Linked DNA regions of Homo sapiens: region 2 is linked to region 1. The links come from fine-mapping of genetic effects on gene expression. A gene starts in region 1. The other region holds a variant in brackets. All regions are shown on one strand. Distances are between the middles of the regions. Region 1 holds the start of PDE6C (phosphodiesterase 6C). Region 2 overlaps FRA10AC1 (FRA10A associated CGG repeat 1).

What was found.
Region 2: its variant is fine-mapped to the expression of PDE6C in cerebellar hemisphere (GTEx, PIP 0.93).

The regions. Positions count from the first base shown.
Region 1 is chr10:93,611,034-93,613,955 of GRCh38, reverse strand. It overlaps PDE6C (phosphodiesterase 6C), which reads right to left and starts at 1,419. Exons shown (of 22, transcript NM_006204.4): 1 at 751-1,419. The coding sequence starts at 1,230.
Region 2 is chr10:93,699,239-93,702,160 of GRCh38, reverse strand. It overlaps FRA10AC1 (FRA10A associated CGG repeat 1), which reads left to right. Exons shown (of 14, transcript NM_145246.5): 2 at 2,055-2,131. The coding sequence starts at 2,055. Among named protein-coding and RNA genes, the nearest start is that of FRA10AC1, 1.9 kb to the left of the region's middle. The variant A/C (reference allele first, on the strand shown) is at 1,545.

The DNA of each region.
Region 1 (2,922 bases):
GTTTTTCTATTTCTATAAGGGGCATCTCAATGCCTTGTATTTGTGCAGTATGCTGTTGGTCTTCAAGAGGGTCCAAATGTCCCACTTACTTGATTGGAATTCATTCTTGAAAGATCTGGGTTATGGAGCAGTGGGAGTGGTCAATTGCACTTAACCATCACCTAAATTCACATATGTAATGAATTCCAAATTTGAACATCTGAACTTTCAAATGGCATCATTTTTTCTCTTTGCACATTTGGTCGATAGATGAAAGAATTGATTTACTAGCAAATCCATCCAAAAAACCTGAATGTTTTCGAAGGACTGTGAATGAGAGGCATGGGGAGCAGTTCACAAGTCTTGGCATCTGGGCACGTTGGCCCATCTCCCTAGTGGGGTAGTTTGTTTTGCTGGTGTTGCTGAGAAGGAAAGTCCCCCAGAGCACTGGAGGAGGCGTAAGGGAGGGTGTGTGGAATGCACCAGGGCCAGGTAGGATCACCTGATAAAATGCCAAACTTTACATGGGACATACTTATACTTCAGAAAATAATAATTCATTGTTTATCTGAAATTCAAGTTCAACTGGGCAACTTGAAATTTCATTTGCTAAATTTGGCAACACTAGGCCTGGGTGATCCTCTTCCCTGCCACCCACATTCCCCCGGTTATTGCCAAACTAATGCCACAAGGATAGCACTATCTCTCTTTCCCATTTGTTCCTCCCTGACCCTGCCAAGACCTCTGCCCCACTGTCATAAGGCCACCTACCTTTTTCACATCTGGGACATTATGAGTTTTCTTCGTGTGAGCAGCCCAACCCACTATCCCAATGTCCAATGGAAACACAACTTCTTTGTCAGGGCCCACCAGGTTGTCCTCAAACTTGGAGGTGGGGGTGACATCCAGCAACCTAGAGGCCACCTCAGGTATGCCGTTCCGGGACCGGCACAGGAACATGCTGCAGCGGTCAGCCTGGAGCAGGTGGGCCAGCCTCTGCAGGGCCCTGTGAACCCCCTGCTCTGGGGTGCCCCCCTCCTCCTGCACGGTCCACAGCAGCTCCAAGCACAGGGCTGACTCCTCCACCTGGGTCAGCTCAGAGAAGGACATGCTGGACTGGACTGGCACCTGGCTGTTCTTGAAGATTTCTCCCAGCACCTCCACCCGCAACTTCCTGTCAAAGTACTCCTTGGCAAACTGAGGGTTCTCCTCCAGGTATTTCTCCACGGCAACTTGGTTGATCTCACCCATGGTGTGGCTTGCTTTGCTGCGTTTGTTCAGAAAGGACGACCTTCAGAGCACTACCTGAGGCAGAGTGATGAGAAGGAAATTCATCCTGGTGGAAATTACTGAGGAAACCGTAAATGGTCCCTCATAGGACTTCCAAAGGTCAAGCAGAAAGCAGAGCTTTCAAACTGCCTGTAACTCTTGGGATGTGACAGAAGGCCCTGGCTTAGGGTGGGATTCAGGAAGCACAGGATTAAAGAGTTCTTCAGGACACTAAATCCCTGAGCATTAGTAGCTCATAAGTCCCTAGCGAATCTTCAGAGTATCTTAGATCAGCCCAGCAAGTAGCAAGCTGAGGTGTCTATTCCAGAAAAATAACTGAATGTCGGCTGCTGTCCACAGCAAGGAAGAATCACTGACATATCCATGAATGACACGACATTGGCAACAATTGGCACTTTGAATCGTTCTTGTATGATAGCTATAGGAAGTAAAACTATTTAGACCTCGGAAGTGCTTGGATTTTTTTTGTTTATATAGCAACTGTAATGAACATCTGGGAGATATGGAACAGTTTGCATCACTGCAACATAAAGGTGAATATTAATCTTTCCTTTTCTTAAAAGTCTTTTGATCACCAAGGTTGCTTGGCCTCCTCTTTCTCTAGAACCTTCACCTCTCAATCCCTGTCACTTCAGAAAGCTTGACCTCAGAAGTGTTTTAAAGGAGTAAACCTCAAGCTTATTACTAAAGAGGTGAACATAGCAAAATATTTGCCAATGATCCAAACCTAATCAAGTCATGAATTGAATAATAACCCTTGTCGAGAGACTGTAATTACAAAAGGTAACCTACATAGTTGCTGGCTGGGTTTTTCTGCTAAGTATCTTAGTTAGGATTTTGTTTTCAATAGTAATAGCCAGAGGTCATGCGATTTTGCTACAACATACAGTCTACTAAATCTACTAGATGATAGATATCTTGTCTGTTGCTAGGATCCTTAACGTCTCAGGGGCTACTGGCATAGAAAGAACACTTACCACTACTTAGTTTTGTTTAATGTTCACTTTACTAAGCTTTTACATCTATTAAACACATTTCCTCAAATATTTAAACACTATTATGCAACTAATAATTCAAACTATTAATTCATGAACCAATTGCCTTCGATACTTAAATGTTGGTTTCAAACTTAGTCAAGGTGTTTTAAACACTTCAATAAAGCTACAAACCTAATATGACAAATTCTCTTAAGTGGAAAACACACACATGTTACAGTGACTCTAAAAATTATTGTTACACCCACATTTAAGTTTGCTTCAAAAATAGAAACCCTATGAGTTTCATTGAGTTCTCTAAGATTTACCTCTCTAGATAGTAATCTTTTTCTTTTTTTTTTTTTTTTTTTTTGAGACTGAGTCTCGCTCTATTGCCAGGCTGGAGTGCAGTGGTGCGATCTCAGCTCACTGCAACCTCCGTCTCCTAGGTTCAAGTGATTCTCCTGCCTCAGCCTCCCGAGTAGCTGGGACTACAGGTGGGTGCCACCACGCCCAGCTAATTTTTGTATTTTTGGTAGAGATGGGGTTTCACCATGTTGGCCAGGCTAGTCTTGAACTCCCAACCTCAGGTGATCCACCTGTGTCAGCCTGAGAGATAGTAATCTTAATAGTCACAAAAGAAAGAGAGATCCGTTGAGGTTGCACATTCCCTGTCATG
Region 2 (2,922 bases), 88 kb before region 1:
TTTTAGTTCAACCAGTGAGTTAAGATAGGTATGGGTCGGATGGAGCGGCCAGCGAATAAAGAAATGGGAGAGTGGGAGCAAGAATAGGAAGTCGTGTCCTGGGGCGAGGGAAAAGATGATGATGATGATGTAACATTTACTGGGTTTCACTGTACAAGACACCGTTAAAACCCTTTAGATGAGGCAACTCTTTTAATCTCCATTCGTATGAGGTCAGCCATCTTACTAGCCTCTTTTTATAAATGAGGACACTGAGGCTTGGAGAGGTTAAGGAACAGGCCCAAAGAAAGACAAATGGAAAGTGCAGAGCCAAGCAGTGAAATCTAGTAGGCTGATCCTAGAATATATCTCTAAACACACTACAGCTGTCCCCCATCAAGATGTAAAGAACGTGAGGACATAGGACAAAGAGTGAGAGGACAATATGGCTTGAACAGATGTGGTAAGACAGCTGGAGTTGACCTAAAAAAGGGTGTAAAATCCAGGTGTGTAAGGCAATAACAGATGTAAGGGAGGGTAGAGTTGGAACTCGGGCTTTCAAACCTTCATCTCCAACCTTAACTAGCATCTTCCTATCTAGGATTTTAGTGGGGCAGAGAAGAGAGGTATATACCCACACACCTATGTTTGAAAATGGAATTACAGACTTTAAAGGTTATTTAAAGATTTAAACAACTTAAAGATTATTTCATGTAGCTATCTTATTTAATAGATGAAGTCCAGGGAGATGAAATGACTTATTCAAGGTAGCCAGGACTAGAAACATGTCGTTTACCCTAGATCCAATGCAATGAAGTTTAGAGAGTTCTTTCCTCTTTTTCCAGCTGCACTTGCTGTCGTTATATTAGTTTTAACAATTTGATATATCATTTAACCTGGACTGTTCCTTCCAGCCATGTAAATTAGTTATGTATGACATCAAATAGTCCATCCTTCCTTCTTAGTGTGTGTTCCAAATTCAGTGCAAAGCTGGAACTAGGAGCTTCTTCCAATACAATTGAGTGGCAACTGAGGTCTTCCAGCATTTCTAAGAATTTCAGTTCTAAAATGAAGTCCCAGCATTTTGGGATGCTGAGGTGGACGGATTGCTCAAGCCCAGGAGTTTGAGACCGGCGTGGGCAACATGGCGAAACCCCTTATCTACAAAAAAAAAATTTTTTTAAGTTTGCCAGGTGTGATTATGCACTCCTGTAGTCTCAGCTACTTGGAGAGGCTGAGGTGGGAGGATTGATTGAGCCCAGGAGGTTGAGGATGTGAGCCATCAAGGCGCCACAGCACTCCAGCCTGAGCAATAGAGCGAGACTCTCCAAAAATAACTGGATAAATAAAATGAAACAAGAGAAAGCTGACTAATCCAAAGGGCAAGGTGGTTTACCTTAAAGAAACTCAAAAGAAAATGGAAATCTCTACATATATTGAAAAAGATTACAGGAAAATTTTCATCAATTGATGATGTACTGTTCACAAATACTGTAATTCTCCTGGAATATAGTAAATCATATTCCAGAGAGGAAATTTGGAGTAATTGAAATTGTGGGCGCAGG[A/C]ATCAAGTACAGCAGATTAGCCACTTACTGGATTTGTAAATAGATTTACTTAACTTTGATTACTTCATTCCTAAATGAAGATAACTTTCTAACTTGCAGAATTAGAAGTGTTGTTTGTAAAGTATTTAACACAATGTCTAGAACAAAGTTGGTGATAAACACACAGTGATTATTACTACTCTGAATCAAAAGTGAAGGATTGCTAAACCTTGTAAGCAGTCACTGCAGCTTTTAGGCCTGGTTTTTCAGTGAAAAGATCAAAGAGTAGCCTTCTTTGTTCACCTAATGATAATTAAGGGTGAAAAATGTTGATGCATTTCCTGAAAGGTATGTCTCTTATTTAAAAGCGAATGAAAGTTTTAGATGGCTAGATGGCCTGTGAATAGGAATCTGCCCACAATGATCCTTTAAAACTATTGTGGCTGTTTAAGATAACTTATTTTTGAATTATTGTTTCCTGGACAATTGGCAACATAGATTCTAAATAGCTGACTTTGTACTCCTTTACAGATGCATGGTCATGGAGGCTATGATTCTGATTTTAGTGATGATGAACGCTGTGGAGAATCCAGCAAAAGGAAAAAAAGGTAAGTAATTTTTTTTTATTGATCTATTTTTCACATCCTTTCTAGATTAATATGAAGTATAAATAAACAAGAGTGAAATTTTTGAATTCTGTTTACATGTGAAGACAATTGCTCTAGTGAATGAATTTTTGTTCATTAAGCTAATACATTGATTAAAAATTGGAGAACAATTGTGGGAAAAATAAAAATTAATTCTGCAAAGGGGTTTATTGAAAGGGAAAGAAGAGTTTCAGATTTCTGGAATCTTTTCAGAAATCAGTGAAACCTTTTCATTACATATATTTTTCATTCAACTGTCAAGGACTGTTTATTTGTAAATGTTGTAGCTCAGAAGGGGCTTGAATGGTGGTCTCTTGCCATTACTTGCCTTCAAAGTGAAGTTAATATGGAGGATGAAAGTATAATGCAGCACAGTTCTTACGCATACGTGAATGAGCAGACTAAGGTCACGGGAAGAAACTCAAGGAAGGTTTTTTTGAATTGCAAGAGACAAAAACTCTTAGCACATAAAGCCTGTGCGTTATAAGCAGGATACGTCTTGGTGGAGCTGCTGTGCGTAGGAGCATTGTTCTTAGCTTTCAGTGCATAGAAACTCAGTTTTATACTTTGACTCAGGAGTGGTTGACTGATGTATACTAACCAAACTTACACGGCTGTTGACTGATTTTTTTAAGCAAATGTATAGAAATTGGCTTATTATTTCACACTGAGAGCAATATATTAGGCATACTAACAGGTTCTGAACATTTTTATAGGATACTCAGTCTCTGCAATAAAGGATAGTACTAATT